2 linked regions of the Homo sapiens genome follow. Each later gene encodes a partner of the first gene's protein in a complex. Each region holds a gene or a part of one and is shown in the gene's direction. Other genes may lie near its edges. The genes, in order: BRPF3 and KAT6A.

Region 1 (10,010 bases):
GGAGGATCGCTTGAGCTTGGGAGGTTGAGGCTGCAGTGAGCTGTGATCACACCACTGCATTCCAGCCTGTGCAACAGAGCAAGACCTCATCTCAAAAAACAAAAACAAACACTAGCAAAATTCTAAAATAAACCTGGCTTCCAGTGTTTTGCAATGTGATTGGGGGAAGAGGCAGGACCACTAAGAATTTTGATCTATGAAACATTTATTTCAACTAAAAGGATGGACTGACTAGAAATGTTTTCATGAAATTTTCTCTTAGCCCCCTTCTGCACCACCAGATTCCAGCAATTTGTACCAGATTTCCCCTCCCTCATCAGTCTAGGGAAGAACATGTGATGGTGATGATTGGGGCTCGGGGGAGCATCTTATTATTTAGTATGCAGAGATTCCCTTTAATTTCCGTTTTCAGTATGACACTTCATCGCTGTCTTCATTGGTTCCTGGTGGCCCCAAGTCTAGAACTTCTTTAGTTCAATTTCTTGAGATAGTAAATCTCACCTGCTGTTGTTTTCCCTCATTCTCTTTGTTCTTGTGGATTTCATTGTCTTGTGGATTTTTTTATCCTTTACTAACATTATTGAAGTTAGGGGAGGGAGTGGGGACCAATGCATGTTGTCAAGCCAGACATTATTTTAACCATGCAATCATTAAACTTTTCCAGAAATGTCCCACTCATTGTGGACTACTCTTTCTACAATGTACAATGTAAATTGTAAATTGAATTTAAATTTGCCATCATTTCATTGTTTTCTATTTGTTTCACCTTTACTATATTTCCTTTTCTTTCCTTGACTTCTTTTAGGTTGGTCGAATTTTTTATTCTTTTTTTACTCTGTACTAGTTTGTGAGTTACATCCTCATTTTTTCATTCTTTTAATGTTAATGATTAGTCTAAAAATTGCAACAGGTATGCTTTATCAACTTAATTGTGGTAAAATTTATGTAAAATAAAAGACAGCTACTCTGTACAGTTTAAGTTTTGGCAAATGTATATATACCTGTTTCTCCACCACTGCCATCAACTTACAGAATGTTTCTATCACTCCAAAAAGTTTCCTCATGCCCTTTATAGTCCCTCCTCCCCTTCACATCCAGGAAGCCACCAATCTGCTATCATTATAGAGCAGTTTGCATTTTCCAGAATTTCATATAAATGGAAACATGTATTTTATTATTATAGGTATTCTGGAGTAATCAAAAGCTAATATTAATCCTTTAACTTTACCTTTTTCTCAGAGTATTTTAATCCTGGAATTCTCTAAAATCCTCTAATTCACTGTTTCTCAACTTTAATATGCATATAAATTACTTATGGAAATCTTGTCAAAATGCAGGTTCTAGTTTAGTATGTGCTATTATTTTTGTGTATTTTCTCTCCCTTTAGTAAAATTATGCCAAGAAGATGGCTACTTTTAGGGTTGGTACTTCTGCTAAAATATGGAATTATATTTTATAGTGTCCTGGCTTCACTCACAGTTAAGAGTTTAGGATTTAATAGAAATCCTAATTAAAGGTTGAAAAGATAAGACATTAGATCAAGTTGAACAATTTATACTTGTCACATACTACTTGCTTTCATGCTTGCTTGGTTTAGCATTCCACTGAGTATATGGTAAAATGTTCTAGCTAGAATTCAAGTTCAGAAGATAATGCAAGCCACACTGGATAGCTAATTTAAACCATACCGTATCACACTCTCTTGCCTGACTAGAACTTAAAGCATGGAACTATTGAAGTCATTTCCCTGTTCCAAAAATCATCAGGGTCTCCTGCCCCTTCATGTCTAGCTCCCTACCCAACCAACAGTCTCCATGCTCTGACTTTACCTTACCAGCCTTCTCTCTCATATCCCTCATTTTTGGGTCAATGGGTAACCCACTGTTTCCTGAAACAATCTTATGGCATTCCATGTGTTAAAGAAAAGACAGCAGACCCCAAATGGAGTCATTCATGCTGAGAGGTTCCATGACACCAAACCAAAACCTGTATTTTACTGTAAGATCTGACTCTTCAAGAAATCAGGAGAGAGATGATAGTCAAATCCCATTAAACCAACAAGATTTCATTTACATTCCTATAAAGAAAAATAATCTTGAAAAGACCAATCTGCTATTTGCTCATTGTTCCTGATTTATTTCACTTCTTTCTGCCTATAAAACTCACCTACTTGTTTAGCTCATAGGAACTCCTTTCTATTTTGTAGACTGGATGTTGCCCAGTTCATAAACAGCTAATAAAGCCAATTGGATCTTTGGGACTCATTTGTTGAAATTTTATTCTTTGATACGTTCTTCCTCTTTGCTCATGCGGGTGGCTCAGCCTGGACCACACTCCCTCTACCATCTTTCTAGCTGACACACCTACCTGAGAGCTTTCAGGTAGAGCTCAGATAGCACTTTCTTCACAGAGCCTTCCCTCTTCTCCTAAACAGACGAGCTCACTCCCTCCTCCAAACTTTGGCACTTCGTTTGCATCTCTCTTGAAGTGCTTATATTGTAGCACGTTCCAGTTATAAATACCCTTGCTTTATACTGTGATTAGAATCTAAATGCCTTCAAGTCTGCAAGCATACTCTTTTCACCTTTGTGGCCTTTACAGCCATAAAATAGAACCTTACCAGCAGCTCACAAATAGTAATTGAATAAATATGTATTTCAGTGTGACCAAAAGAGGTTCCAGAGAACTTGAGCTGATTTCATCATTTCTTCAATCCTCAGGTTCCCACCTCCAATAGGAGCTCCCGAGCAACCCTTTGCCACCTCTTAATTTGCAATGATTGTACCAAACTGTGAGAACCTACAAAGTTTGAACTTAGATTCTTCTTCAATCTTCTCCTTTGTTCTTATGTCCAATCAGACAAAACAGTTGCTTTGTCATCTGATTTCTGATTTGACCTTTCCTTTTCCTCTTTCTCTAACACATTTTCCATCATTCTGCTTAATGCCTTTTTATTTTCATAATGCCTAATTACCTATAGTAAACTCTTCCAGGTTTACCGGATCTCCTGTTCTACTTTCTCCAATACATAAAGAGGATAACAGTAACATTTTATAGAGTTAGTAAGTTGATAAATAAGATATGGTGTGCATATTGGACCTAGTTTGTACATGTACCTACTACCCCATTGTACAATCTTCTCCTGCTCATGTCCTCTGGTTTTAGGAGTTGATACATGACAAGCAGCATGTCCCTCTGGCCACAGTTATTGGCTCAGGATGGCTGAGAAATTGCAAGATACAGTATGCTGATGACATAATTCGAGTCCTTTGACTCGATCTTGTCTATAGCTAGATGCACCCCTGGACTTTCTGGTTATGAGAGTTTATTTCCTTTATTAAACTCACTTAAGTTGGTTTTCTGCTAACTGCAACAAAGATCTTTAATAAATGGAGTATATAAAGCACTAAGCACAGTACCTTGTACATAAGTGTTAGGTATTATTTTTATTATCCCTGTCCCCTTGCCATACCTCCTACCCAATTCAATCTTTTTCTTATCATCTGCCCATACATACCAGCTAGGATAATTTCCGCATTATTCCCTGCATATTTTCCCTTTGCCTGGACTGTCCTGTCACCAACCCAATGTCACTTTACACTCTTTTCACCAGTTCACATCCATCATGATTTAGAACTTGGCTTAAAGAAGTCTCCCATTCTCCAAGAAGCCTTCTTTGAATAATGGTGGCTCCATACTCTTCACTGCCTTATCTATTTTTTCTTGTATGTGTTTTCTACTTATTTCTACCATTCTGGATTGCACACTACTCAAGGCAAGAAAAAATATATTCTATCTATACTTATGATCATTAGTCCCTTTCTAGGTTGAGATTTTGTCATTATTTTCCAAAGAACTTGTGCAGTATTAGACACACTCTAAGTGGTCAATGAATACGTTTTAGAAATACATAAATGGAATTAAATCTAGAGAGTGTGGTATGTTACTCTATTTAAGACCTGTTGTTAACCTAGCTAAACTTTTCCCATTTTCCAAGCAAACTTTACATTCTTAAACCATTTTAATTAGTGTAAAAGTATCGGCCGGGCGCGGTGGCTCACGCCTGTAATCCCAGCACTTTGGGAGGCCGAGGCGGGCGGATCACGAGGTCAGGAGATCGAGACCATCCCGGCTAAAACGGTGAAACCCCGTCTCTACTAAAAATACAAAAAATTAGCTGGGCGTAGTGGCGGGCGCCTGTAGTCCCAGCTACTTGGGAGGCTGAGGCAGGAGAATGGCTTGAACCCGGGAGGCGGAGCTTGCAGTGAGCCGAGATCCCGCCACTGCACTCCAGCCTGGGCGACAGAGCAAGACTCCGTCTCAAAAAAAAAAAAAAAAAAAAAAAAAGTATCACAATGATTCCAACCTCAAACATTCCTCCCAACTGTGGTTTCAGAATTCTTTTAGTCAAGTATCTAAGGAAGGAATATTCTATTAAAAATAATTTAACAATCAATCAAGGCCTATTTTTTTCCTTATCATCCACGTTATTAATCCAGTGGGTACTGCGTCTGACCCCTGAGAGGTTTCTTGGCCTGATAAACTAATGACAATAGTGAAGCATTAACAAAGATATCCTGAGATGCTGAAAAAAAGTATGATGGGGAAGTATGAAAGAAAGAGGTGGGGAAATGGTGATTTTTTTTTGTATTCATGTTTCTTTTAGTTTTAAATGGTAAAACCTTCTCCTATCCCAAATAAGTTGGTTTCTACTTACAGCTGGAAGGTTCTTAAAAACAACTATTTGGAATCAAAGATCCATGCCTCTGTTTGTTGAATTTAATTGCTGTATGGTTTATTGGAAAGGCCAGGGGTGGTGAATTTAAACCGTTTAAAATAGCAAACGATTAAAGTGAATTAAATTTAGTGCCTCTGAGATTTTTGATATATGTTCCAAATTTGTTTTTAATAACATAATTGTTCCATGTTACATTTAAGATTCCATCACAGGGAACTGGTTACGTGTGCAGTTATGCTTGTAGAAACCAATTCCAAATGTCAAAAATTAAAGTGAGGGCAACTGTAATGATATCATTAAAAAAGTAGAAGTTGAAAATGGAAGAGAAACACTTAGGTTGAATAAGGTCTTAATATGAAAGCTTTGAATAGAAAAACCTGAAAAAAATCACATGCATTAGGTTGACTTAAGGCCTTTTCAACAGCATTTAAATCGTTGACTTACAAGTAGAAACCAATGCATTTTCTCAAGGTATTTATTCATTCATTTTAGTGGAAAAAGATAGCTCCTGATCACGCAAATGGGAATTGTGCTAAATAAATTTTGAGAACATCCATCAAGAAATAAAAGTTACTAGTCATATGTATAAATGATTATTATATTTCATGTTTTAATAGTTTCTGTTAGTTTTCAGACTTTTTTTTTCTTAACTACAAGTACTGTAATTGCAATATTTTCTTGCCTCTGGGGCTTTCTCTTCCACAATTAATCATCTTTTTCTTCCACACCTTCCCTCCAAATGATTATTCCCCCTAGCTTCAGAACACTTGACATTAATTCATACTATTTCATCTTCACAGCTTTCAAAACATTGTCCTGCCCTTGCTTAGCTCCACGAGCCACCCCCCTTGCATTTAAAAAATTGGTTAACAGAAGCATTTTTGTACTATCTCTTTGCCAGAAGATGCTATTTACTTGGAAACAAATTAGCTTCCTTAATCAAACTTTTGAATTTGAAACTCTCTATATTTAAATTCCTTAGTATAACATCTATACTTCCAAAGTAGCAGTATGTTCACTTTAAACATTCAGAAAATTTGGATCCTAAGACTTTATCCTTCATCCTTCTGACTCTAGAATACATGTCCTTGATCATCAGAACCAAGAAAGAAATTGAGTCTCACCAGCTACACCACAAGTGCCAGCAGAGGAAACACTTTCAAACTGTCACTCACCTTCACATTTACAGGCAGCTTATCCATACGTCCTTTATAAACATCATTATGTATTGGTGCTTAAGACTTCAGTCACATGAGGTAAGCTTTCCAGTTTACAGGCAAAAGGGGGTGGCAATGGAGCCCTTTTCTTTATTTTTTTGTTTTTTTAGATCAAAACAAAAGCCAGTTTGGTCTGATGCTGCCATTTGTCAAGCATCTTTTAGAAAGCCGCCTAATGCATTAAATTAACCAAGTCAGGTTTAAAGTGTTTCCCATGCCCACAGTGACAGACGAGTTACCAGGCATGCTTAAGCAGACTGTCAAACTTTTGTTTACTCCTTTTAAACGGAAAGTCAGATTTTTTTTTTTTTTTTTTAAAAGATGTGTGGTGCGGAACAAGACGCTCACCTGTACACAACAAAGGCAGGTCTTTCCCGGCTGTCCTCACTGGGGGAGGGGATGGACAATCGCTAGACCTTTGTCCTCAGGTCCTGGGCATGGGGGTTAGGGGAGACGCGACTTTCTGGGAGTCGTGCAGGCACCTGCAGTCAAGAAACTACATATTGGTTTTGACCTCAATGACTGCCCTGGCTTAACCTTTGGAGAGGCCCTTTAGTTCGGGGAGGGGGCTTGCTGCTCCAAACCGTAGCCACGTCACCCACAAGGACTGGGGAGGAAATGACTGACCGCTCAAGAGTCAGGGACCCCTGTCTCTCCCAACTAGACCCGAACGTCCACAGCCCTCTTATCGGGCTCGCCCCGTGGCGGGCAGGGCCGTGGTGCGCAGGGATCGCGGCGGGCGCAGACCCGGTCTCTTGCTCGGTGTCCCCGCCGCGCCCGCACCGCCACCGTGAGGCCGAGCCGGGGATGGTGCCCCGTGGCGGCGGCGGCGGCGCCTCCGCGCTCCTCTCCGCACCGCCCCGGCCGCCGCCGCGCCAGGCACGGGCGGGGGGATTTTTTTCCCGTTTCCCCCTCTTTCGCGCTCTCGCTCCTGTTCAGCGGGAGAGCCCGCAGAGTCAGGGAGGGAGCGAGGGAAGGGGTGGAGGTGGCGGGGGGAGGCCGGAGGGGCGGATCCTGCCTGGGGGCTGATCCCTCCCTCCCCTCGGCCGGGCTCCGTGGCGGCAGCGGCAGCAGCGGCGGCTCCATTCCCCCTCCTCCCCCGGGAGCGGCGGCGGCGGCCGGGCCGGGGCCCCAGCGCGGGCCGGGAGGGGGCACGGCGGAGGCCACGGAGGCAGGCGCGGGAGAAGACCGCGCTCCGCTTCCCGGGCCGCGCCGACCTGCTCGGCGGCCTGCCCGCCCGCGCCCAGGGGCCCCGAACGGTGGGGCCGGGCAGGCGGCTGAGGTAATGGGGGCGGCAGCGGGGCCGGACAGAGCGGGGGCGGGGGCATCGGGGCCTTCGGGGACCAGGGACTGCACGGGGGGAAACCGGAGAAGCGGGGGGCTTTCCGAGCAGGGCGGGGGCGGTGCGAAAGCTCTCTCCTGGAGCGAGGGCGGCGGCAGGGAAGGAGAAGGCGGGTGAGCGGGGGAGCTGAGAAGCGAGGACCCCCTCCCGCAGCCGCCATCTTGTCTCCCCCCCCAGCCCTGGATTCCGAGCCGCTAAGCCCCGCCCCCGCCACGCCTTCCAATTGGCCTGGCCAGACGAGAGTCCCGCCCCTTGAGCGGCCCTAGGTCCCCTGGGTCCCTCTGACGGGCAGGTGACGCAGCCAATGGGTTCTCGCCTCTCCGCCCCGCTCATTCGCTGGCGCTCGCTTTCTCTGTCTGAGGGTCGGACTCCACGTCAGGCTGTCTCTGGTGCGCTCGCCCCTCCCCTCTGAGGAGATGTTATTTCCCTCCTTTCTTCTCCGAGGGGTCAAGATTCTTCTGGAAGAGGTGCCCCCTTAAAGGAGCAGGAGCCTTGGCTGGGGTCCTCCTTGTCTCCTGAGTATCTTGTGTGAGGTGCAGGGGATACAGTCTAATTGCAGAAGCTCCTCATTCTTCGGGGACCTGGATGGGGTGGGTGAGCGAGGGGTCAGGGGGTGCCGAGGGGAAATCTGGGGGGGCGGGGGTTGTTGGAGATATTTTGGAGGTGTGTATGTGGGAAGGGCTGTGTAGGTTGAGAAACTCCCGCCAAAAAACTCGTCTAGACTGTAAGCTCCTTGTGGGCGAAACTCTTTTCATTTCCCTCATCAGCAGTCCCTTCCCCCTCTAGAGTTTCTCCCCGGTGTCTGGAGGCGTGGGTGGGACAAAACACGTCTGTGTAGAGTCTTGCATGGTCGAGAGATGCTTGAGCAGCCGAGGAGGTGGCAGGTGGGGAAGGAGAAGATGGAGCGGCTTTCATGAAAGTGGGCGCCGCACCGCCTGTCTGCGCTGTTTGGGGTCGGTGTGGAGGCAGATGTTCTCACCTCTTCTAGGGCCTCGGTGCCTTTGGAGGGGTGGGTGATGAAGCAGGTCTGTTGGCCCTGTCTGCCCCCAGGGACTTGGCATTTGTAAGGAATCCAGTAGCCAAGGGCCTCTGGAACCCGGACAGAATTGCTGCGATGATTCTGTTTCCTTTGGCTCCAAATGGGGTGTGTGCCAGCCCGCCTGGCACTGCTCCTCAGCCAAATTGGTTTTTTGTTTGTTTCAGTCACACTTTGGGATTGGAAGGCCTTTCAAGTAAAGATGTTAATAATACCTTATTAACAAGTAGCACCTAGAGAGCTAGATTGTGTTACCCTCATTTTACTGATGGAGTATGGAGGCATAGAGAGCTTAAGGGACTTTCTCTAGGTCACAGAGGGCCAAGATTAGAACCTAGATTGCCCCAGAGCCTCGTTTTGTACCAGACCATAGCACCTCTGTGGTGTTCTTAATTCCCACTGAGAGGAATTGAGCATCGGAAGACCTGGGTTCAAATTGTAGCGTTATCACTTACTAGCTTTACGTTGAGTGACATCTTTCTGAGCTTCTGTGTAGATGATAATAGCTACACCATCTCCTAAGGTAGTTGTGAGAAATATTAAAAGTAAGAGGGCTTTGTAGTTTGGAAAAAGTGCTTTTATTATCACCGTCTCTACTTTATATAGATGGTAGACCCTGCAACCAAGGCGATGAATTGTTTTTCTCTTTGAAATCTTCTCTTTGTTCATATCCTTCCAAGTCTGCCCACACCATGGGGCCCTGTATCCCCAAAGGTCTCTCCTGGTGGTGACAGCCTTGGTAACTGCCTACCGCAGCTCCTTATGAGCTTGTCATCCAGAGAATGATGGGGGAAACTAGGACTTTCTCTTGGCTGTACAAGGATAGACTAGATATGAGTGTTCTGGGAGAGACTTTTGAGGTAACAGAATGCATTGAGAGTTTACCTCAGATACTGCCCAGATCATCTTGGCCTTCGGTCGAATGAAGGTCCTAGACAGGCCACTATAACTTCAGAGATCTCTTGGAGCCACTCTCAGAGCTTCTAGGGTTTGTTTCTGCCTGGAAATGTACTAGTTGGTGTATCCTGGATCAGGGGTTCCCAACCCCCAGGCCGCAGACTGTGGCCTGTTAAGAACCAGGCCATACAGCAAGAGGTGAGTGGCGGGCAAGCGAGCATTACCACCTGAGCTCTGCCTCCTGTCAGATCAGCGGCTGCTTTGGATTCTCATAGGAGCGCGAACCCTACTGTGAACTGCGCATGTGAGGGATCTAGGTTGCATGCTCCTTATGAGAATCTGACTAATGCCTGATGATCTGAGGTGGAACAGTGTTCACCACCCACCCTCATCTGTGGAAAAATTGTCTTCCACGAAACCAGTCCCTGGTGCCAAAAAGGCTGGGGACTGCTGTCCTGGATGGTGTCTTTTGTAGGGAATACCCTGCATACTGTAGTTTGAAGCCCTTAGACCATGTATCATAGATATTTCAGATGCCTTCACCCCTTCACCTCTAGGCAGGGTCAAGGAGTAGGGTTTCTGATCGTGGTAAGAGGTATTGGGAGAAGACTCTAGTGACTTTTGATCCTCTGATGGGGCCCATTGTTCACGTACAGAGCTTGACAGTGGATGCTTTTCTTGTTTTCTTTTCTAAACCGTTAACTACATGTGTTTTCCATAGTTAGCTGTCGCCCAGCTTTATGTACATCATTAGAACATTAGATCTTTCCCCATGTTACA
Region 2 (9,780 bases), on another chromosome or scaffold:
CCTAGAATCAGCCTTTTCTCCAAGGACCAGGGCCATTTTTAATCTAATTTGAAAATTACATTCTCGATTGGGACTATTAAGTTTGAAGTAGAGAAAAATTGAACATTGACTAACTGCTGTTCATTGCATGATCATGAAGAATAGATCTTTGTCATCCTAGCACTTGTATTGCCAATTTATGAAGTAAAACAAATCATGTTAAAAAAAGAAAAAGAACAGGCAGTAAGCTCACATGCAAAGTAATTTTGAAGTTAATGAATAAATGCTTTGACTGGATGTGTGAACTTAAGCAAGTCCTATACCCTCTCTGACATCTATAGAATGAAGGGATTGGATTAGATAATCTCTGGGGCATCATCTCTTATTTTGTGATATTAGTTGTATAATTTTAGCTATTTGGTCAGTCCAGTGCAAAGTTGTGCTCAGTGTGCCCAAATTTCAGTAACAGATTTATTTTACTTTTGAAATATTTCACTAACACTGAGTAAATACATTTCAGCCCCATATTTCTACATTCCACAGCTTTTTATGAGTAGTTCATGAAAATGGCATACAACTTTACTGATAGTTCTGCAAACCTTCACAGTAGTGCTATAAGACAAAGTGTTTTTATTTCTCTTTTGCTCTTAAGTTGGAAAAGTTAAGGGATTAGCCTCTGGGTCAGTTCAGTATTAAAACAGGGCAACTCTCTAGGGTGCTAAATTTAACTGAACTATTAAGAGAATTATAATGTCTGCTATTTGGAGATGGCTGCCTATTCTTTTACAAAGTTGTGTTCAATTGCCTAATACCTTTGTATTTATAATAAGTGTATTATCTTACTATAGTATTTTGAAATAATATTCAAAATATTTTTTGGCAAACAACATCCTCATTTTATATGTGCTAATTCTATTTGGTTTTAAAACTGTTTTCGTATTATTAATAGAAAAGATAGTGTTCATAACTGTAAATACTTGCTTTCTCTATTAAACAGAAACCATTTCTCCACCGAAGGAGGAGAGTCCGAAAGCGCAAACACCACAATAGCAGTGTAGTCACAGAAACTATTTCTGAGACCACTGAAGTGTTAGATGAACCTTTTGAAGATTCTGACTCCGAGAGGCCAATGCCAAGATTAGAACCCACGTTTGAGATCGATGAAGAAGAGGAGGAAGAGGATGAAAATGAACTTTTCCCTAGAGAATACTTCCGTCGTTTGTCTTCGCAGGATGTACTCAGGTGTCAGTCCTCTTCTAAGAGGAAGTCTAAAGATGAAGAAGAAGATGAAGAGTCAGATGATGCTGATGGTATGTTTTACAGAACTCACTTACTGTGGTTTATTGTCTTCAGATATATAGCAGTAGCAGTGACAGACCCTTCAGTAAAAAGGCTGAAAAATGAACACAACCCACTAAGCAAGAAAAGGAACGTTTGGCAATCTCTAAAAAGTTGTATCAAGTATATCCATCTTGATTTTTAAATGTGTTTTCCCTTCAACTCAGAACCTCTATTAATTTGCCTCTGCAGAAAATATCTTACTATTAGGCAACTGTTCTTTTTTGCCCAATCCTTTCTAAGCCTTTATCAGAATCTTTAGTTAATGGGAGAGTTGGACTTAGCATCAGGAAGATGTAATAACCCTTCACTAGAATGTGCATTCTCTAGACTTAGTCTGTTTTGCTCATTGCTGTATGCTGAGTGCTTAAGCCCGGCGCTCAGTAAGTAGTGTTAAATGAGTGAATGCTAAGAAGACAATTCTCCAGAAAGAGCAGATTCATGTAAATTGGAACTTGTGTCACATCTGTTCAGGAGTCTTTCCTGAATTGTATCTCTAATGTGTCTTACCCAACTAGTAGTAAATTTCTCACAAATGGTAACAATAACTCAAAATAAATTTTATAGTATAGATACAAATCCAACTATTTACTTTTAAAGCAGCCTAGTTGTCATTTCTTCTCTAGAGACACTGAAACTAGGTCTCATATATATGAGCCAGGTCAGAAACAAGTCTTTTTCACCCTAGCCTAAAGTTTTGCCAGTGTCTCATGCTGCCTGCATCTGCAGTGTGTTTATCTCGCATGGGCTCAGAATGAGCATTTTTACTTTGTTGGGCAAATTTGAAGAAATCTACTTGTCCAGTCTTGGTACATAAACCTTTAGCTTTTATGCATTAACTGGTTGAACTTTTTAATTCTTTTAAAAATTCAGTCAGTTTCAAGTCTAGAAGATAAACTTACATTTTCTCCATTCTCATATTTTCTATATAACAAATACTTTTTTATTTTTTATTTTTTATTTTTTTGAGATGGAGTCTCCCTCTGTCACCCAGGTGGGAGTGCAGTGGCACAGTCTCAGCTCACTGCAACCTCCACCTCCGGGTTCAAGCGATTCTCGTGCCTCAGCATCCCAAGTAGTTGGGATTATAGGTGCACGCCACCATGCCTGGCTAATTTTTGTATTTTTAGTAGAGACGGGGTTTCACCATGTTGGCCAGGCTGGTCTCAAACTCCTGACCTCAAGTGATCCACCCGCCTTGGACTCCCAAAGTGCTGGGATTACAGGTGTGAGCCACCCTGCCTGGCCAACAAATACTTTTAATATAGTGATAAGATGAATGTGTTCTTTGCTCTATCATGAATGATTCTACAGAGTTTAACTTGCTATGTTTTGAAATAACATAACTAGGAAACTAAAAATTTATTTTGTAAATTTAGCACTTTATATTCTGTCTTAGATCATTGTACACTAAAATAGTACCCCTGATTAAGTTCCCATGGACTTAGATTTTTGCTGATGCAGCCATTTCCTTTGTTGACTTTCAAGTTACTACTACTAACTGTGCCTTTTTAGCCGTGCCCCCACTGCATCATGTTCTTGTCTTGGTATTCTTATTCTTTAAAAATTAATAGGCAATGTGAGTGTACTTAATGCCACTGAACTTAACACTTATAAATGGTTAAAATTTTAAGTTTTATGTTACGTATAGTTTACCATAGTTTTTTTAAAATGCTAATAATATAAAATTTATTTCTAATGAATGTAATTGGTGCTTTAATTTTTTCTTGTTTGTCTAAGTCTAAATGTCAGTTTTTGTCTAGGACTAAATAAATGCTTTGCAGCTATTCCCATACAAACACAACATTAATTGAACAACTGTTCACATACGATGGCTCAGTCATGGCCTAGAGTAATTGGCTCATCATACTACCTGAAGTGATGATTTGTGGAAAGTAAGAAAATCCGAGAGATAAAGTAAATCACAAGCAGAAAAAAAAAGAGGAAATAAGCTAATTTGTAACTTTTAGTAGAGACAACTTGATAAAAGTACTGCTTACTACTTATTTGCCTCTTTATAAAGTTCATCTCCATTTTACAGATGATGAAACTGAAATGTAGAGTAACTTCCCACAGACATGCAGCTGATGATGGTAGTCTTGAATTGGTTCTGACTAGTGTCTGATAACATAATGTTGACCAGGATTCTTTCATAGTTCTGCCAATTCACTGTGTGACTTAGAATATGTCACTAATTAGTTTTATCCTCTAGGTTCTTAACTTTAAAATGAAGACAATCAGGAGTTTATAAAAGTAATGATTAATAAAGTCATTTCTATTGTATATGCTAGTCTTGGAAGAAGGAACTAGAAAATGTAAGACCTTGTAACCTGTCTTTGTTTTTTTTCCTTCCTGTATAGACACTCCTATCTTAAAGCCAGTATCTCTTTTGCGAAAACGTGATGTGAAGAATTCTCCTCTTGAGCCAGATACATCCACACCTTTGAAAAAGAAAAAGGGATGGCCCAAAGGCAAGAGCCGCAAACCAATCCACTGGAAGAAAAGACCTGGTCGAAAACCAGGATTTAAGTTGAGTCGGGAAATCATGCCAGTTTCTACTCAAGCATGCGTCATTGAGCCCATCGTTTCCATTCCTAAAGCTGGACGTAAACCCAAGATCCAGGAGAGTGAAGAAACTGTTGAGCCAAAAGAAGACATGCCCCTACCCGAGGAGAGGAAGGAGGAGGAGGAGATGCAAGCAGAGGCAGAAGAGGCTGAAGAGGGTGAGGAAGAGGATGCAGCCAGCAGTGAAGTCCCAGCAGCCTCTCCAGCAGACAGCAGCAATAGTCCTGAGACCGAAACCAAGGAGCCTGAGGTGGAGGAGGAAGAAGAGAAGCCCCGTGTCTCAGAGGAGCAGAGGCAGTCAGAGGAGGAGCAGCAGGAATTAGAGGAGCCAGAGCCAGAGGAGGAGGAAGATGCAGCTGCAGAGACTGCCCAGAATGACGACCACGACGCTGATGATGAGGATGATGGCCACCTGGAGTCCACAAAGAAAAAGGAGCTAGAGGAACAGCCCACGAGGGAAGATGTCAAGGAGGAGCCTGGTGTTCAAGAGTCTTTTTTAGATGCTAATATGCAGAAGAGTAGGGAAAAGATAAAGGATAAAGAGGAAACCGAGCTGGATTCCGAAGAGGAGCAGCCTTCCCATGACACGTCCGTGGTGTCAGAGCAGATGGCTGGGTCTGAGGACGACCACGAAGAAGACTCCCACACTAAGGAAGAGTTAATCGAATTAAAAGAGGAGGAAGAGATTCCTCATAGTGAGCTGGATCTGGAAACTGTACAGGCAGTGCAGTCTTTGACTCAAGAAGAAAGCAGTGAGCATGAGGGCGCCTACCAGGACTGTGAGGAAACTCTTGCGGCGTGTCAGACCCTGCAGAGTTACACCCAGGCTGACGAGGACCCTCAGATGTCCATGGTTGAAGACTGTCATGCGTCAGAACATAATAGCCCTATCTCCTCCGTTCAGTCTCACCCCAGCCAGTCAGTCCGTTCGGTCAGCAGTCCCAACGTGCCTGCCCTTGAGAGTGGCTACACCCAGATCAGCCCAGAACAAGGATCCCTGTCCGCACCCTCTATGCAGAACATGGAGACCAGCCCCATGATGGATGTGCCTTCCGTATCAGACCACTCTCAGCAGGTGGTGGACAGCGGCTTCAGTGACCTGGGCAGCATTGAGAGCACCACTGAAAACTATGAGAACCCAAGCAGTTACGACTCCACGATGGGCGGCAGCATCTGTGGGAACAGCTCTTCCCAGAGCAGCTGCTCCTACGGTGGGCTGTCGTCCTCCAGCAGCCTCACCCAGAGCAGCTGTGTGGTCACTCAGCAGATGGCCAGCATGGGCAGCAGCTGCAGCATGATGCAGCAGAGCAGCGTCCAGCCTGCTGCCAACTGCAGCATCAAGTCACCTCAGAGCTGCGTGGTGGAGAGGCCTCCCAGTAACCAGCAGCAGCAGCCGCCACCACCGCCTCCACAGCAGCCACAGCCGCCGCCGCCACAACCACAACCAGCACCACAGCCTCCACCACCCCAGCAGCAGCCGCAACAGCAGCCGCAGCCTCAGCCCCAGCAGCCTCCACCCCCACCCCCTCCCCAGCAGCAGCCCCCGCTGTCACAGTGTAGTATGAATAACAGTTTCACCCCAGCTCCTATGATCATGGAGATACCAGAATCTGGAAGCACTGGGAACATAAGTATCTATGAGAGGATTCCAGGGGATTTTGGTGCCGGCAGCTACTCTCAACCATCAGCCACCTTCAGCCTAGCCAAGCTGCAGCAGCTGACCAACACCATTATGGACCCTCATGCCATGCCTTATAGCCATTCTCCTGCTGTGACTTCCTATGCAACCAGTGTTTCTCTGTCCAATACAGGACTGGCTCAGCTGGCTCCATCTCATCCCTTAGCTGGGACTCCTCAAGCACAAGCCACCATGACGCCACCCCCAAACTTGGCATCCACTACCATGAACCTCACATCTCCTCTGCTTCAGTGCAACATGTCTGCCACCAACATTGGCATTCCTCACACGCAGAGATTGCAAGGGCAAATGCCAGTGAAGGGGCACATTTCCATCCGCTCCAAGTCTGCGCCACTGCCCTCTGCGGCTGCTCACCAGCAGCAGCTGTATGGCCGTAGCCCATCGGCAGTTGCCATGCAGGCTGGCCCTCGCGCACTGGCTGTTCAGCGTGGCATGAACATGGGGGTTAATCTGATGCCTACTCCCGCCTATAATGTCAATTCCATGAATATGAACACCTTGAATGCCATGAACAGCTATCGAATGACACAGCCCATGATGAACAGCAGTTACCATAGTAACCCTGCCTACATGAACCAGACAGCACAGTATCCTATGCAGATGCAGATGGGAATGATGGGGAGCCAGGCCTATACCCAGCAGCCTATGCAGCCTAACCCTCATGGGAACATGATGTACACAGGCCCCTCCCATCACAGCTACATGAACGCTGCTGGCGTGCCCAAGCAGTCACTCAACGGACCTTACATGAGAAGATGAGCAAGATGAACTTGCAATCAAAAACTTAAATATATATAAATAAAGGAACCTTTTATACTGACAAACCAGAGAAAAATGGACCTTTTTCCAGTTAAAATATTGCTGTAGATTTAGAGGAATTTTTCTTTGGTTTATTTTATTTTTTAGAAAACCTGATCTTCTCTTTTTTTGGGTTCATTTTGTTCTGGGTTTTGGTTTTCTTCACAATCTTGAACATTTTACAGTAGAACTCATCTAAAAATGGATTTGGGGATGGGGAAACATGCACAAAATCTTTTCATAATTAAAAAGAGCCTTACTTTCTTTACATACCACATGGACAGAATTTGTGTAAAAGTGAATTATCTTTATTTTAAAATGTATGTTTCCCCTCACTGTTTGCAGCTCCCAATGTTGTCATTTTTAAATGTTATATACATCTCAAGGGTTAACCAGACCCTTTCCTCCAAACCCAACCTTTCATTTCCTACTTCATTCCAGCAGGAGGCACTTAGGGGAGACTCGGATGGGGACATGGAGAACAACCCAAGCTCCTTAAACTTATTATTATTGTTAATATTATTATTATTATTATTAATAAAGTGAGGCAGGAAAATGCTTCTCCTTTTAAAATCCCCTCCACTCCTCACACACACACACCTCTTGAAACCCTTCCCCAAGAATGTTTCTTTATAGACGGACTTCATTGAAATCTTTGTTGTTCTTGAATCAAGTGTAATATAATTTTTTTCTTCTTTTTTAAAATATTCCCACTCAGCACTCAGAGACACAAAAATACTGTAAGTCTCAATTAACAGCAGAATCTCAGAGAAAAGCTGTTTGCAATCCAAATCCAGCCTTTGGAGGAATAGAGATGGTCAATTAACAATCAAAAAGAGGAGATTAACCTCTTGTTTTTTTACCACCTGGTGAATCAGCCATAACGCACACACACGCCACCCAGCCTCTTGTTTCTAGTATGTACTTTGAAATGCTAACTGAGGGTCTTGATGCTTGAGCCTTTGACTGATAAAACTCAAATAGCAGTCCCCAGTGATTTGCCTCTTAGGTTCTTTCTTAAATTGTTGGTGGATGACTGTACATTTTAGTGATTTGAAAAATAACTGACAAACCATTGAAACAGTTTATTTTATGTTGGAAGAGATGGCGCAGATGTGTGTCAGAAGGGAGATCACGGTGTGAGTTTCGTAGCTATTTAAGTGATACATACCTCTAGTTTTTGTATGTCTTTTGAGATCCTGAGTTCATCCCCTGTGAATCAGAGTGCACAAGCACCTCTCCTGTGAGTGGCTAATGAGAAGAGGGACAGACCGACCACCAGCACAGTAGGGCAGATCTGGACAGCAGAATGTTATAACGCAAGTTCATGTGTTGCTCCCAACTCCATTCTCTTTTCTCTCGTGCAACCAGTTTGCCCATTCTCTTCCTATTACTTGCTCCAGGGATAGGTAAAAAAAAAAAAAAAAAAAAAAAAAATATATATATATATATATACACACACACACACACACACACACACACATATATATATATATATATTCCATCATTAGAAGATGGAAACTATTATACCACTTGGTATGTGCAGTCAAATATCCAAAAGGGGGAAGTACTGCTTAGAGAAATATCTGTAAGCATTAAATTCTCTCCTTTATTTGTACATTTTATATAGATAAATTTTTAAAGTACTAATTAGGCATTAACTTTTTTCAAATGCACAGGTTTGTTGGTTTTTTTAATACACTTTAATTGACTTTCTCAAGCGTGCTAGGTAGAAACGCAGAATTCCACATCTTCCCGCTCTCAGCTCTGAGCATGTGCAAGGCTGTGTAGGACCCAGTTTCTCTGTATATACTATTCCAGTTCCCAGTCATCTATGTAGAAAGTGCACTGTGCTGCCATCGCCCTACATCTTCAGCTGTGTCATTGCTTCCTGGTTGGGGTGGGGACGGGGTGGGTCGGGAGGGAGGTATATTGGGAGGAGGGTGGGTCAAGGCAGAAGGAGAAGCTGTTGAAATGAGGGCCGTGAAATCAGTTTCTGTTGGTTTGCGGTTGTGTTTGGTTTTGTTTGTTTCTTTATAAAAAATTCAATCGGGCAGCTCCCTTTTCCACAAGCCTCTTTGTGACTGTAGAACTATTGTAGAAAAAAAAAGTTCTTTTCTATATTATAAAAGAAATTATCCAACACAGTAATATTGGTACCTGTCATTTTTTCACTTCTGTTTAAAAAAAATGTATTTTTAGCAAGATAACTTGGGTAATCTTCTAAAAAAGAAATTTAAAAACTCACTGTTAGTGACTTTGATGCCTTTTAAAATAAGAGCTTTTTCATTTCATTCCATCTTTAAAATTTTTTATCTTTGTTGTAGAATATTAAAAACTATTTTAAGAAAGATAAATTCTCTTTAAAGAGATCTCTAGCGTGTGTGAATAGAGCTCCAGATGCCTCTAAAAGCCGCATGTACAAAGGAAGCCACGTCTATCCTGTCTGTTTATATTTGCTTTTCCTGTTTTGTAACCTCTTTGTACTTTGTTCATGGTGACTTGTAAGCTAAGGGGAAGGGGTGCCTAGATGCCTTTGTATCTCTCCATGTCACGCGCTCCTGGGCCAGCCGGCCTCCCTTCCTCTCCTTGTATGTAATACCTTTTTTTCCCCTTTCTAGCAAGTACTTTCAAAAGAACTCTGTACATTTTAACATAAAAAATAAATTATGTTGAGCCATTTTGGATGTCTGTCTTGCATGTGGAATTTTTCTCCCTTCCCAGTATGTCAGAACTCTTCAATTCTTGTTCTACACCCAGAGACCTATAAACATTAGTCTTTTCATTTTCCTCTTTATTATAGGAGTACAAGTCCATGGCCTTTGCTTTGAAATTCCAGTTTTCATTTATGTCTGTGTTTAAATGCCAACAATATGGATGGGTTTTCCATTTCCAAGGAACATGGCACGGTAACCCTACTTTGGATTTTGTAGGGGCATTCATATAAAAACCTCCTAAAGGGATTTTAATTCCCGTCCCCCCCACTCCCCTAAAAAAAAGCAATTGCAATAACAAGTAGCTCCTAGACTTGTGATAAATGGGAGGAGTAATTTTTATAGATCTTATTTTATAATGTAACAGTATTTTTAAAAGCGTTGTGGGTTTTTTTTCATTTCATTTTACCTAATTGGGTAATCTAGGAAGATTCGTCATTCTCCTTTTGCCAGAATTCAAGGCCCTGAATGCTGATTACTTTTTGGTGGTCTCTTGGGTTGTGTTTGCCTCTCATCATTTAGAATTGTGGACAGGAGGCAGAGTCCAGAAAATTTGATTTCACTTTGGGAAATTGGCCTTAGTTTCTGGTGGTAGGCAGTGAGGCAGGTTCAAGTTTTAGCGGCCTCCACACTTCCTCTGCCCCTTCACACTGAGGAATTGAGGAACTGTACATGATACTACCTATA

Evidence for each region.
Region 2: BRPF3 (region 1) and KAT6A share a complex: the UniProt entries of both Homo sapiens proteins name them as parts of the MOZ/MORF complex.

The regions. Positions count from the first base shown.
Region 1 is NC_000006.12:36,189,734-36,199,743, forward strand, and holds the start of BRPF3 (bromodomain and PHD finger-containing protein 3), read left to right. Parts: upstream 1-7,010; 5' UTR 7,011-7,237; exon of another isoform or gene 7,238-7,470; intron 7,471-7,651; exon of another isoform or gene 7,652-7,686; intron 7,687-10,010. UniProt on the Homo sapiens protein: Scaffold subunit of various histone acetyltransferase (HAT) complexes, such as the MOZ/MORF and HBO1 complexes, which have a histone H3 acetyltransferase activity.
Region 2 is NC_000008.11:41,928,765-41,938,544, reverse strand, and holds the end of KAT6A (histone acetyltransferase KAT6A), read left to right. Parts: intron 1-976; coding exon 977-1,289; intron 1,290-3,677; coding exon 3,678-6,340; 3' UTR 6,341-9,066; downstream 9,067-9,780. UniProt on the Homo sapiens protein: Histone acetyltransferase that acetylates lysine residues in histone H3 and histone H4 (in vitro). Component of the MOZ/MORF complex which has a histone H3 acetyltransferase activity. May act as a transcriptional coactivator for RUNX1 and RUNX2.